Homo sapiens: one gene and its partner. The protein of the gene in region 2 purifies or fractionates together with the protein of the main gene of each other region. This does not show direct contact. Each region holds a gene or a part of one and is shown on either strand. Other genes may lie near its edges.

Evidence for each region. The genes of interacting proteins can lie anywhere in the genome.
Region 1: the proteins of HES6 (region 2) and TLE4 purify together in Homo sapiens (co-immunoprecipitation; 2 studies listed by BioGRID and IntAct, with this or other methods). This does not show direct contact.

The regions. Positions count from the first base shown.
Region 1 is NC_000009.12:79,574,655-79,582,244, reverse strand, and holds part of TLE4 (transducin-like enhancer protein 4), read right to left. Parts: intron 7,373-7,590; coding exon 7,309-7,372; intron 6,113-7,308; coding exon 6,068-6,112; intron 1-6,067. UniProt on the Homo sapiens protein: Transcriptional corepressor that binds to a number of transcription factors. Inhibits the transcriptional activation mediated by PAX5, and by CTNNB1 and TCF family members in Wnt signaling.
Region 2 is NC_000002.12:238,237,314-238,244,956, forward strand, and holds HES6 (transcription cofactor HES-6), read right to left. Parts: upstream 2,726-7,643; 5' UTR 2,593-2,725; coding exon 2,512-2,592; intron 2,435-2,511; coding exon 2,348-2,434; intron 2,256-2,347; coding exon 2,174-2,255; intron 1,939-2,173; coding exon 1,514-1,938; 3' UTR 954-1,513; downstream 1-953. UniProt on the Homo sapiens protein: Does not bind DNA itself but suppresses both HES1-mediated N box-dependent transcriptional repression and binding of HES1 to E box sequences.

The DNA.
Region 1 (7,590 bases), on a different chromosome or scaffold from region 2:
AAGCAAAACATCTGCCTTCATTTAAAACTGAGTTGTGTGATTTCCTGCATCGACGAACCTCTTTCTAAACTACAAAGAGGCTACAAAACATCACATTTTCCCCTCCCAGCTTCCCCCTTCAAAAGCCCACAAGATGGTGATTAACAAACAGCCCCTTGTCTGTAGGCACTCTCATAAGCCACAGGAAAAGATAAAAGTTAAAGAGAAGAACAAGTTTGTAAACAAATGAGAAATAGGTTGCCTAGGGAGGAAGCAAATTCCATCTTGATAAGCAAGCAGCTTCCCTAGCCCACATGTGGGAGATTCCGAGTGAAAGCAACCTCACCCTCTCACCCACTGAAAGCAGTCTGCAAGCAGAGGGCAGGCTGAGCCATCCATGGACTCTAGGCAGTTGCAGAGAATCCCCCAACTCAAGAGGTTCTGCGTATGAGCCTAAAGTTCAGGGACTCTCTATTTCAGGAATGAACTGGGGCCTGAATCTCTAACCCATAGCAAACCCATCTCCCAGGAGATATCCTCCCACATAAATTTATTTGAAGTCCTGAATCCACCAACTATTAGCTGTATCACCTTGTGCAGAGCTGACCCTGTTTAATCAACTTTTGATTGGATATAATCCCTGTCTTAGGATCATTATGAGAACTAACGATAAGAATTTTGGCAGTGTGCCCAGACCAGTGGTAAGCGCAAGCCAGATATATAATAAATGTTTACTTCTATTGAAAGGAAATTCCAATTTCACTCAAGAATCACTGCCTTAGGTGAAAAATCCAGATATCCTCCTATGGTATCTCTAGAAAGACAAAAGAATCCATCATGGGAGAAGGAAAAAGGGAACTCCCCACAGTATTCGGAAAACACACACCCTAAAACATACACACACTGTAACAGGTTAAATTTCATCCTCCAGATCTGCTTCCCGTGCAGGTGCTGTAATAAGTAAAAGGACAGGTCACTGGGTCCTGCCCAAGGTGCTTCCACTTACTTATCAACTGCCCTAATACTAGACCTTCTGAAGGGTTTTGGGAAAAAATCTAATTTAAAACCTACACTCATTTAGATTTACTAAACAGGAGTAAATGAAGTTGGCCTCCTATTTTAAAATGCCCAAATGAGAGGTAAAGGGGAAAAAACACCACCAATACCCTTCACTCCGTTAACATTAATTGTGGAATATTATCAGCGTGTAAATAATCTTAAATTAGAAAAGGTGGCTTTAAACCTTAATGAAAACCAAAAACACAAGAACCCTTCCCACCCCCACACACATAGTCTTATAATTGTATCTGAAGTTTATGCAGACATCAAAATTTCACTTGTCATCTTTAAGATTTTATAATCTAGTAGTATCTACCCACTATTCAGGCCCTCTAGATTGTTATTTCCTAATATTTCTGAAGCAAGATAAAGTTCTGTCAGCAAAATCTTCATTTATTAGTTACTTTCAGCTAGAACACCCCATCTTCCATGATAGTTCACTCTCATTATTATACAAGAGTTCAATTATACCTATCTCTGAAAAAAAAAAAGGCACTGGGTAAGAATATAACAGACACATTTGTGCCTCCATACTAAAACACCTACTCCTCCATCTACTCTTCTAAATCTAAGAGTACACAATAAGACAGAAGATGTGCAAAAAACTGGCAAGGTTGAAAAAAAAAGTTATCATAAGGGAAATGTGGTCTAAAATGAACTTTCAACAAACTTCATAGCAAGCAGTGTCCCCAAATAAATTTACTGCACCCTAGATTCAAGTACACTCAAGGCTAGAATGTCATGCCAGTCATGTATTACTTCAATCTCAATAAATCTCTTCTTACTCTCCAAATCCTAGCTGCTTTCTAAAATAGTTCACTAAAAAACACCAACCTAATTAACAACAGCTTCCTCTGCAACAGTGGCCTTGATTTCACTTATTTACACATTAACTGCAGCCTGCTTTTGGCCAATCCAGTCTATTCTCTGTACCATGCCGAGCCTTTTATCTGCCCTGGACAGCATTTTCTCCAGCAGATGAAGTAGATGCCGATTGATTTGCTGTCGAGCATGGTAAATTAATAGCAACAAATTGCTGAGGGCCCGTCTCGCTGCTCCACCATGCTTCGGCAGTTTTGCTTTATTTGCTCCATGATGGGCAGCAGTCGGCCTCTTCAAGTCAATTTCTTCTTAACAACCTGCAATACTTTTCAATGGTGAAAATAGAGCTGTTCCTTGTAAGTCAGAAATCAATATCTTATTGCCCTTAGAAAATGCTAAACAAGCAGTATTGGCAATCCACTTGGTACTAGAGGGTATCAGATACAATGCAAATCCATACTGCTTCCCTCCTTGTAGTTATTACAGTTTGCTAAAAGGTTCCTAATGTCATTTATCATCATTTACCATCGACCAAAGAGGCTATGATTATGATATCCTATCAGTTGGCAAGGCCCTTTCATTTCTATTCAATTAATATTTTAGCAGCACTCAAATGGTTGTGGCCCAAGTCTCGTAATAAAATTTACATGGCTTTAAGTGAAACAGGAGTTTTCTTGCTTTGATTAAATATACATATATATATACACACACACACACACAAATACACACACATATAAAAATACACACATAAAACATACATAAATGTGCAGTACTTACTTTCAGATTCTATGCGTTTTAGATTTCTAAAATTTCCTGATGATTACTAAAATTCAAATGAAGAAGCTTTCACATTGTAGAATACTAACTATAAGGAAGTCATAGATGTTCTCATGCTCCCCTTTTCAAAAGATGGTATGTTCATCTCCATATAGTTCCTATAGGTTGAATTCACATACCTACTGTTCCTAATCTATATCCAATACTCACTTTTTAGAATGGTAACCACTGCTGTCAGAGTCCATCAGTGAGGACTTCTTTAATGACAGCATTACAGGTGAAAGATGGGAAGAAGCAGCATTTAGTAATGCTATCAACTCCATGCATCACCCCACTGTGCCATTTAGAAGCCACCAACCCATTTAGAAGCCACACTGTATTTACAAAGAAGAACAATCAGCAAAAAAACTTAACAACTAAACCCTGGGTCAGCTGTCTCATACAAAACAAAAAACAAAAACCATACACTTAGGGAAATCCTTAGGGAATAAGGGCCTATGTTCTTTCATTTTTAAAAATTCCATTTTGAAGACGTCACACTAAAACATGTGCCATTTCTAACCATGTCCTATTTGTCATCTTCACTTTTATGCTAGAACTTGAGACAATGGCACAGCATTAATTCCCATTATAGCCTAGAATACTTCATCCTTTTTTTTTTTTTTGCTTCATCTGCTTAGCTCTATCAATCCTAAAGATTACCAGAAATTTAGATTCATATTTTATGTTCCAATTCCACGTCATATCACCAAGTTCCCCTTTAAAAAAAAAAAAAATCCACTAATTCTACCAGACTAATGCTATTTACTCAGTTACCAAAATTTAAATTAATTATGTTCTCAAACATAATTGTTAAAAATTGGCAACATTATGCAGGCTTAATTAAGATTAAATCCAATTTACTAAATGTACTTTAATTGGTACTAATTACATTAGCTTTCATTTCAGAATGACAAATTCCCCATAGGTTTCATTTTATAGTTCTCTATCAGAATCAACACAGGGGGACTGATGATGAGCACCACATAGAAAGGGTAGGAGGGAGAACACCGACCTCCACCCTGTTTGTCTTTGCTTCATACTTTTATCTTTTTATCAGTTTGCTAAGTCACAGAGCCATGACTGCATCACAACCACCATTTTCTGTTCCAATGAAAAATTTCTCTAAAAATAAATATTCTGTGGCTAGCAGCAGCCAAGAAGAACAGGAACGTTAACCAAAAAATACACAAAGGTTTCAAATATCAGGGCCACCAATTACTAGGGTACTTCCAAGGGCTCCCGGGACTCCTACTGTTGAACCCTTCGAGACACAAATCTAATAAGTGAATAAACCTAACCCGATCTTGAGAACTAGGCCCAATTATGCCGCAGGGCAACTTCCCTGCATTATTGCTGCTTTCCATTACAAGGGTATCCAGCGAGTACATCTGGAAGAGAGGCTAAGAGGAACTAAGGCTGTCTGCCTAGGAAAACAAATAAAGACAGATATGCCTCTATGCTTAAGGGGGAGAAAGAAAGAAAATATAATAAGTAGGTGGTTTGCAGGGCTGTCTGTATTTCATAATGTGATAAACTGCCCTCAGGATTCTTGATATGATTGAATTTAAAAGGAAACGAAAAAAAGGGAAAATGTACTGTTCTCAATTTTAAATGGATGGCATTTGAGGCTAGCTGGACAAGAAGATGACAGAATTATAGCAGTATAAAATGTGTAAAATTAAGGGATTTCACATACCCCCTCGAAAAAGAAATACATACAGCCAAATACAAGCTATGTGCCTCTTAGAAATGTAGATGGTACAAGGAGACCTGGAAACTAAGTGGTTAGGGTAAACAAGATACAGAAGGAGAAATAAAGGGACTAAATTAATCATCTGGTCCAATCTTTAAAAAGACACTAATTAATTTTGGGGAGTGGGGTGCAGACAAAAAAAGAGACATACACAAGATCCAGACCTCAAAGGAAATGTAATGGGATAATTAACAAACAATATCTCTCATGTAATTTATTCCTGTAAGGTAGAACTAAGAGAAGTCCATCCACAAGATTGAACAGATTTTGTTTAAGCAGAAGATATTTACATTACTAATCTAAACAGAAATGACAAAGATGCCAAAATAAGAATTTAATTTCAACAGGCCATTCAAACTATACTATAATGCTAATATTGACATAACCAAATAGCATACAAAGTAAAACAGTATCTGAAATTAAAAGTCCTCAATGTAAGCAACGTCTCATTTTTTTCCAACTTTTTGTTTTCCAATACTATTCATCAGATTGCCTTATTGTCTAACAGCCATCTCTTAAAGATCTACTATCTGGGATGTTCTGAGCATGTAGAAAATAACTATACCCAAAAAGGAATCCATAAATAGTGAAGGCCTAATAGTATGTGCTCATTTCATATTTTCTCAACTTAGAAAGTAATGACATCCACCTTGACCATAAATAGGAAATGAAAAGCAGTAAGTTTTCCCTTGTCTTTTTCCCAGCAGACAAACACATACACACCTATTCTGAAATGGCTGATGAGACCTGAAGTGCTTCCACTAGGAGATCACTAAAAATAAATGCTTCCTAGAGGAATTACTATCGCCAAACAATATTTATATATATATATGTATGTATATATATTTGTGTGTGTGTATATATATATATAGATAGATATACCCGCTATTATTCTTCTGTCTAGGAAATTTAAGCCAAACCATTTTATTCAGTCTCCTGCACAAAAAGAAGACTGTTTGAGTCGTATCTCTCAGTGCTTTCTGACTAATCATTTTTTTTTTTTTTTGCTACTGAACTAATTGCTAGATTTCAAGACCCAATGTTGAACCTTATCACATCCTCCTATCAGGCTCATTTACTCTGTACAAATTTTGGAAGTAACGGTTATAGTTCTTGGTAAGACCCAACTAAGTAGCCTCAGGGGACCAGTACAAGGATTTTACATCAATTTCTTTTGTAGCTCCACAGATTTCATTTTCATCCTCCCAGCTCACCCTCTATCCATTCTTTCACATCAAGCCAACGAAGGCGCCACACAATTTAATTTTACTGTTTAATATTTTCCAAGAAAAGCTCTTTCACAAGACAAGTTTGCAATGCCCAAAATACATAAAGCAACTCTTTCAGAAGAATAACAAGAGGATTTTAAAATTTAGCATCCTGCTTTTGAAAGTGTACAGAGTTTAATATGTATTCAGACTTTTTAAAATAACATTTTTAAATTATAAAAATTAGGATAATATGAAAGAAAGATGGGGAGCCACACATGAAAAAACAGCATTTTCTTCACTACCCAGACTTTTAAATACAGGTAGCCACAACGGCTTGCAGAATAAAACTGCAAAACATACAATTTTCTTTTCATAGTGTCCCAGTATTACTGTCATTTAAAATGGTTATAAAGAAATAACTTACCTGCTTGTGCATTTCTATATTCAACCCATAGGACATTTCATAATACTGTCAAAGAAGGAAAAGCAATTAAATGCATGACTTTCATCAAACAATCTCCCTAGTTTGTTCAAAATGCCCCAAGTAAATCTGAAACAAACATAAAAGCCTCACCTAAACCAGTATCTTCATATAACCTATGCCAATAAATCAAGAGCCCATCACTATCTTTAACCACCTTAAGACACAAATTCTAAGAGAAAACACACAAAACTAAGAAAAATTAAATTCAAACACAGCATTCTTAACATCTCCAGTTTCTTTATACATCCCAAGCAGATGCATCAAAAAAGTCTGATGAAAATTTGGTATCCTACGGACTCTTAATTCCTAAGCACAGCAGGCAAGTTAACAGCAAAGAATGCCTTATACAAACGCTGATGTTTTGAAAGGAAGGTTGGAAAAGGTGATGCTACTTAGAGTTTGATTTCTGATTTGTTAGTGTACTGCTCATATTCACACATTCAAAGCAAAAAAGCTAGATAGAAAAATAAATGAGTGGGTTATTCTGGAGCTTTCTTGGACAATCATAAAAATATGCTTCATAATACTTCTGTAAAAGCAGATCTGGTTTTTTGAACGTGTAGTATAACTGGCATAGAAATTCTGGCAGAACACATCAGTTATACAGGAGACTACAACATTCCTCAAACCAATATAACACTACAGAAATTGAAAACATACAAATATTAATGTAATAGTAACATAAAGAGAAAAAAATTTGAAAAATGGTCTGCTGTCTTTCCTTATCCATCACTCCTTTTCAAAGAAATAAAACATTATTTTTTAATAATGTCTTTAATAATAAGACATTTACAATGTTAACAGCATACAGAAAAACTGGCAAAAATTGTTTGGAGCAAGAGCAATAAAACAACAAAGAAAGCCACTAACACAAAAACATTTTTGCTTGTGACAAAACAAACAAGGTTTTGTTTTTATTTTTTTTCGATCTGTAAAAACAAAGCACAGAAAATTATACCCCATGTGGCTGAACTTTCTGAAAATTCCAATCAAAGCCAGTTGTCAAAGGCAAGTTATAACAGCCTAGAATTACAGGTTGCTAATAGACATATTCCCACAACTTCAACTGCACTGGCAGGGTGACTGTGATCTATCTTGCAGCCCCCAGCAATTTAAACATATTCTTGTTTTTGGTATTCCAAACTAATAGGCACTTTGAATCTGTGACATGGTTTTCTTACCATGACATAATGCCGCTGCATCTCTGTCTTCTCACTGGCGAGTTTCTCACATTCCAGCTTCAGACTGTTCAAGACATAAGATACTCTAAGTACAATGATCTTAACTTACATCCTTCAACTCTTAAACGCATATTCTAAATCTCACCTACAAACAACTAAATCAACAATCTTAAATAAATACCCCCATCATTATGGAAAGGGAAGGGGAAAGGGGTGATTGGAACCAGTCTGGACTTGCCCCTTCAATAAGGATCATATATGTGGTTTTTTGTTTTTAGGATT
Region 2 (7,643 bases):
TTGAATTGAGGTGAGCCAGAGTGAACCTCAAACTTTGAAACACCCCTGGTGGCCAGGACCTGCTTGGGGGCTTTTGTAAAGGGGCTGCTGGGAAAGGTGTTCTTAAGGCAAAAGCACATGTCCAGAGAGGAGACCCCGACGTCAATCCTAAGTTGTCACACCTTGGCCCTAGCCTGGGGACTGCCAACCCACAGTGAGAAGCTGCTGCTTTGGGGTCCTGGAGCAGGAGGAGGGGGCTAGGCTAACTGTGGCGGTGACTTCAGCCGGCTGACCACGTGCTATCTGCAGGTCTGGCCGAGCCCAAGAGGGCAGGCTCCCGCACCCCAGCTGCCCATCCTGCCACCCTCCATCCCTGAGGGTTCTGACCTCCTGGACCCAGTTTGACCTAACGCTCAAGCCCCCTGGGGCCTTGGCGCTTTCATTTCAGGCCACAAACTGGGTGGGTCTCCTTGACCCTGAAGTCAATGGCAGCAGTGGGGAAGTTCCTTCTTCAGTCAAGATAAGCAACAACCTCACACAAGTAGACTCATGTCTATGTCATGCTCGTGGGTCCTAAAACAGGTCTTTAAAAGATACTTTCAAACCAAATAGGTAGCAATTAGGCATTATTTTATTATTCCTGAAGCTCATGAACAAGAAAATGGCACAGAGACAGGTCATCTCCCTATTGCTGAGTTACCCTGGAGACAAGCCTCATGCAAACAAACTCCTTCTCCAGGACACACAATGCCCAAGAACAGGCTGGGTCTGAGGACCTGCCTAGCATGGGGGGCAGAAGCACTGCCTGCTGCAGAGACAGCCACGGAGTGCATCCCCACCACCATCACACTGCTCACTCTGCTGAGAAAGGGTGAGGTTTTAAAGGACATTCACCAGCCTCAGATGCAGGGGAAATGTGCTTAGTTTAGCATTTACATATCTTGACACAGTAATGACACATCACTCAACAATACTTCAAGGGTAACTAACTCCAAAATTCTTTATTTAGTAAAATTGTCACATTTGATGTCAATGGAATACACAAACTCAAGTGTGCTACAAACAAGATGTACAGAGCATCACAGCTCTGGGCAGTGCAGCTCAGTGCACCTGCCTCTCATCTCCCCGCTGAAGTGGCAAGTTCAAGCTTTTGTTTAGCCCAGGGCTGCCTGGAACACTAGTGCCCAGCACCATTTCTGCCACCTCTGCCCCCAGAGCCCGCACAGGGCTGGTGAAGCCTGGGTGGGTGAACCTGGGAGAGCGCTGGCAGCTCTACAAAATTCTTCCTCCTGCCCGTAGCTCCCTCCCTCCACCCACTCCAGAGCTGCAGGGTCCCTAAAAGTTTCTTAAGAAACGGGGCTGGGGCCTGACTGGGCTGGTTACCAGGGGCTGCCCTGCAAGCCATCCATCAGAGGAGGGAGGGAAGACCTGGGAGACTTCCAGGGCCCTACCCCACCACATCTGAACCCCTGGGAGGAGGGAGGAGATCCAGGGAGGGCCGGGCCCACCCCCGCAGGACTCTGGCTGGCATTGGTCACCAAGGCCTCCAGACACTCCGGGCAATTTGGGCTGTGGTCAGGCTGCCCAGGGCTGCGGGCACCAAGTCGGGCCCCTCAGCAGGAGCCTGACTCAGTTCAGCCTCAGGGGCCTCCTCCAGGTCGGAGCACAGGTCGTCCCCAGGACCCGGGGGGCTGGGTATTGGGGATCCCGGAGCGCCCCCCGCAGGCCAGCCACTCCGTCCAGGGGCTCTAGGTGGCCCCGCCAGGGCGTCCCCCAGCAGATCCTGGAAGCTGCTGCCCTCACGCAGCGGCATGGACTCGAGCAGATGGTTCAGGAGCTCGGCAGCGACGGTAGCGTCGATGGCCTGGCACGTGGACACGAACGTGTGCACCTCGTGCATGCACTGGATGTAGCCGGCAGCGAAGCGCTCGCTCGCTTCCGCCTGCAGCTGCTCGCGCTCTGGGCCCGAGGGTGGGAGGGAGAGAGCCGCGTCCCGCGCGGTGAGCGGCGACTGCGTGGCCCAGCCCACCCGGCCCGCGGGGACGCGGCTCACCCAGGAGACGCGGGGGCGCACCCTGCTCCGGTGGGAGCCCTCGCCGCCGACAGGACAGGGGCGCCGGGAGGGAAGTCCTCCGTCTGGCAGGGGTTACAGGCGCCCGCGGCCGGCGCCCCCGCCCGCCCCGCCGCCACTCACCGCGCGCCCGGCCCCGCAGCACACCCTGGACCCGCCGCACCGTCAGCTCCAGCACTTCGGCGTTCTCCAGCTTGGCCTGCACCTGCGCGGGCGGGAAGGGCGGTGAGCCGGCAGCGCGCTCCCGGACCCGCCCGCCCGCCCCGCAGCCCCACGGCGCCTGCCCGGCCGCCGCACCTCGGCGCCCGCCAGCAGCAGCCGCAGCTCCTGCAGGCTCTCGTTGATCCGCGCGCGCCGCTTCTTCTCCACCAGGGGCTTCCGGGCCTGCGGGGAGCGGGGCACTGAATCCCAGCCCCGCACGGCCTCCCGCCCGCTTGCTCGCCCATGGCCCCGGCCCGCACCTTGCGGTCCCCTCGCGTCTCCCAGCCGTCCTCATCCTCACGGCCCACACGGTCCCGGCCAGGCGCCGCGGGTGGCGCCATGCCCGCTCCGCCGGGGACGCGGCAGGGGCTAGGAGCAGCGGGGACGGGGAGCGGCGGGGACCGGAGTGCCGGCGCCCTCCGCTGCCCCGCGGCCGCCCAGCAGCAGCCCAGCCGTCCGCGCTCCTCGCGGCTTCCGGCCCGCCGCGGTCCCGCCCCTTTTATAGCCGCTTATTTGCATCTCAATGCGCCGATTGGCCGCGCGGGCCCGGGGCGGCCGACCGCGAGGCGCGCTGCAGCCAATCGGGGCAGCGCGCTTTGTCCGGCCCAGCGGCTCTGGCGGTCGGGCAGCTGGCTGAGCTAGGCGGGGCCCCCAGCCCGGCCTTCCCTAGACCCCCGCGGGGGCGGCACCGGGGCGGCGACCCCGGGTAGCTGCGGCCCTGCCCGCGCTTGTTTCTCTCCGTCTGCTGCTCTAGGACCACTGATCTGCCGCGCGTGCGAGCAGGCGTCCACCCGTCCGTCCGTCCGTCCGTCCACTCATTCATTCACCCATTAATTCATTCATTTCCCTCCTTCGCCGATGGCGCCTCCAGAGTTGAGCGCTGGGGCCACTGGCCCCAGGAGATGCGTCCCTGGTGTGCAGAGCCACAGTCAAGTCCGCGGTCTCTGGACCTAGAGGGGTTTCAGGTCCCGGCTGGGGTGGCTGCCAAGCCCCGGGGAGGCAGGGTCCATTGGGCAGCGGTGGCGGGGCGGCCCCTGAGTTTCTTCCGGACTCGTCCAGACGCCGGGCCGGACCCCCGACGCCGCCCTCCGCCAGCACTGGAGTCCTAGTGGGGCGGGGTCCCGGGTGCTCCCGCCCGCGCCGCTCTCCCCCTGGGCTCTGCGGGTCACCAGCCCCGCCCCCCTCTGAGCTCCCCCATCTCCCTCTAGTCCCCTTTGGCCCCCGGGGCCCCCTCCCTCCCTTCCACTGCCCCCCGCCCGCCTCCCTCCTCCCCTCCTCGTCCTCCGCGCCCCGCCTCCCAGGCCCGCCGAAGCTGCCGTCTGGTCCTGTAACTTGATGCCCGTGACAGTTGGCAGCTGCGGCCGCTTCGGCGGAGAAAAGCGAGAAAAGCGGCGGCCGCGCCAAGAGCGACAGGTGTTGGCCGCGCCTTTGTCTCGCACCCTTTGTCCGGCGGGCAGGCGGCGGGCGCTTGTCCCGGCCAGACGCCCGCGACTCCCCCATCGCGGCGGGCCGCCCATCTGCTGGGTTCCTCTTGGCCGCGGGCGGGGTGCGTGGGCGGTGGGGCCGCGCCCTCGGGCAGCGTCCTGGGGACCCCTGCCCGGCTCCTGCCCCGGCGTCAGTCCAGACGCTGTGTGGAGGAGCCGGAACGGGAGACGCCTTCTCGGACCCCAGCCGGCCGACTACCAGCCTGCCCCGCACAGCACCTGCCTTCCTCAGTCCCCACTACTCACCCGGGCTGGGATCGTCAGGGTCTGTTCTGAGCCCCTCCAGGCTATAAGCGTCCCTGGACAAGGGCACAGTCTGACCTAGGACCCCCTGTCCACCTCCCCGCACCCCCAGCAGAGCCTGGCCTCACAGAAGCGCTGGTAGGTAGGGAAGGTGAGGGGTGGCCCTGGCAGGATGGGCTGGAAGGCCGCGTGGGAGGGGAACATCACGGGACCGCAGCAGCTGAGCGGAGCGGCAGGACTAGGCTGCAGACCGACCGCCCCACTGCCCCTAGAGAGGTCTGACAGGCCTCCCATGGCCCCTTTACTTGCGCCTCTCCACCAGAGGGACCCCTGCAGGCTTCCTGCTGGGTGAGTTTGGTGAGAGGTTTGAAAGCTCCCAAAGTCACCTCACTGACCTCTGTAATTACCTGGGACCCCCTCCCGCTGGCTCCCAACTGTCCCTGCTCTGGCTCTTGGTTGCTCTATGAGCAGGGTCCTGAGACTTCCCCCAGCCCAGCATCACTCACCTGGGTGTGAAACTACCGCTTTACTTCACACACTCCCCACCTGCCCAGTAGTGGGGCTGGCAGGGTGGGGCTGGAGTGGTGGATCCCAAGGAAGTGGATTATTAGCCTGTGACTTTACTCTCCTTCACCACTTAGACATCACCCCAGGGAAGGAGAACCTCCACTCCCCCAAGTGGCTACAATGACATTTCCACTACTTCGAGAAACTGTGATAGGGAAAAATAAACTCACTGATATTTCCTGTACTCCCAAGTTTGCAAACTGATTTACACTCCTCTCATTATCCAAACGAACAAGGCCAAGTAGATGTTTTAGGATGCTCTCATCCTAAAACATCTGCTTTATGTTAGGCAATTTATATTGCAACAGGATGATCAGGGCCCCAAAAGAGGACTTTGGGTAAAGCCTGACTGAACACTTGATTGGATGGGGAACTGGATTTGAGGGGCAAGGAGGACATGATAAAGGCAAATGGTGCAAGCAAAAAAAAAGAAAGAAAAGCAACTAGGAACTCTAGGAAAAACAAAAAGCTTCCCAAGAAATGTAATCTTAGCACATTACTTGGCTCAGGAGACAATTTTCACAGTCACAACAATGTAACAGTGTTCATAGGGTTTTAACATTTAGAATTAATCTATACAGAAGGCAAGGAAGGATTGTTTATGGTTATGGGACATGATATAAAGTTGACCTTGTAAAAACAAAAGGACAGGTGATAGGAGTTATGAGAGAGGAGGCTAAAGGGAGGACTAGGGACCTCAAAAGCCTTGTCTGACAGTGGAGTGGGTGGAGGGTTGAGGAATGCTGTCTAGAGTTGAGGGAGGGAGAAATTAAGCACTGGGATATGCCTCGGTGTGACCAAGGATCCTACAGGGAAAAGAGCTTAAGTAGAGAAGGCTGTACATCAGCAAAATCCTTCTTGGTTGGACTGGAAGTTGCCCAAGGTCCCCTCTGCAAGGTCAGCTTCAATTCCCTTTAGCGGTGCACTGGCCAGCTGGCATGGCCTTTTTGTCCCAGAAGCCTGGCCTATCTTGAGGTCACCAAGCCCTCCCTCCCTCCTTCACAGCAGCCTCCCCTAGCCAACACTTCCTGCCATTTGTCCCTTGGGCCAGTCCTGCCTTCAAAGTTTGCCTGAGTATGGACTTCCTGAGCATTTGAGTCCTTTGATCCCCCTAGAGCCAGGAACAGAGGCCAGCAGAGGCTGGGCAGGGTGGTGGTTGCTGCGGGGATACCAGTTAGCAGTGGGGGTGGCAGGCCATAAATCCCTGGGGGAACAAAGGCAGCTGCGGCCTGTAGACTGTCCAGGCCCCTTGTGGGCAATCTGCCCAGGAGACTCAGAGAATCTCCGTTTGGTTTGGAAATAAATCCCTTGGGGTTATATGGTAAATAAAAATACAATTAAGAGTCTTCCAAAAGCACTCAGGTTCAGTGAAACAACCATATCTGGCCATTTAGAGCAGTTTGCAGAGGCCTCTGTGCTCGCTAGGGAGGACTTTGCCTTTTATCCCATCAGCACTTGGCGTTAGGCAGCCAGGCTAGCAGGCAGAGGAGAGCCCCTCCCTTCTGCTCAGGGAGCTTCTCAGAGGCTGGGCATTGGGTTCAGGATCCATTCAGCTCTCTGCTCCCACCCCCAGGGTCATGGTTTGAAGAGTGGGAGGGATGGGGAGCAACTCTTCGGGCTTCCACAGTTTTGGCCTCACAAGGCTTCATTCATCACTGTGAAAGAAGGGCTGGGGTCAGGGGACTATGCCGCCCTGCCCATATCATTCGCAATGGAGACATGTGACCTTCCTGGTGGAGCCTCCTGACCGCCCCACCTTTAGCCCTACCTAGCCCGATGACCAGAAGACAGGCAGCCAGCCTGGAAAGGCCAGGTAACCCAGGGCAGGGATGCAGGGAAGACAGAGGTGCGTGGAGGCAGAGCTGGGGGCACTCTGGGGCTGAGCCAGACAGCTGCACCCCTCCAACTAAAAGTGAAAAGACTGTGGGGCATGACACGATTAGGTTTGCATTACGTGAGTTCACTCCTGCAGCCTGAAGGAGGGTGTGTGTGTGACACGCACAGGAAGAAAGGGAGCCAGCAAGAAGCAAACGCTATAAGGGAGCTGACCGCCAGGAGGCCTTTGGGATGTAAGATTCTTTAATGCAGAATTCCTGGAGTTCTTTAAAAAAATTTTTTTTAAATAATCTTTGCTCTCTATTCAGGTTTTCCTTTGTGCTATGTGAAAAATACATACAAGTAAAAATAAAAATATACTTGCTTTATTTACCAATTTTCTAAAAGGCAAACAGGTCATAAAAAGACACAAGCAGTCAAACAAATCTATTGCACTGGGTAAAGAAAGTTTGGTTTGCACACAAACAAACCACTTGTCCAGCAAGGCTCAACAAATCATCACAGAAACTCTGAGAGCTTATTTACATATCTCTTCGGGAATATATTAAAAAGAAGGCTCAGTTTAAAATAGAGAAAAACTGTTTAACACCTGTGTAAGCACACACACTAAAGAAAACATGACTTGATGCTTGGCATCACGTAAACAAATTCACAAGATGATCCTATTAAGTCAACTGCTTGGCACGCGCTGAAGCTACAGTTAACAATCAGTGAGCACATATTAAATGATAAAATAATGCTGATGGTAAACATTCATAACAGCAGAGTAAGATTTTGGCAGTTTTGTGTTTCGGTAACATAACTGTAACCTTAGATGAACACCTATCCCTTCATGATCTGACTTTAGAGGCAAGGAGTTTGTAACATCTAATGGCCATAAGAATGCAGACTGCTACCTTATCATAGGCATAGGCAGCTGATGTTACTTTGTAAATTAACGAAAAATTAAAGTGTTCTTGTGTTTATGAAGAATAGGTTTAATAGTCAGGCATAAGATGGTTTTACGATGAAAACCTAGTGGATTACAAAGAGATTTCACCTCCATCAAAAAACAGAAAACCCTGGTCCCAGTTGGGCGTGGTGGCTCACGCCTGTAATCCCAGCACTTTGGGAGGCCGAGGTGGGTGGATCGCTTGAGGTCAGGAGTTCGAGACCAGCCTGGCCAACATGGTGAAACCCTGTCTCTACTAAAAATACAAAAAATTAGCTGGGTGTGGTGGCAGTCGCCTGTGGTCCCAGCTACTCAGGAGGCTGAGGCAGGA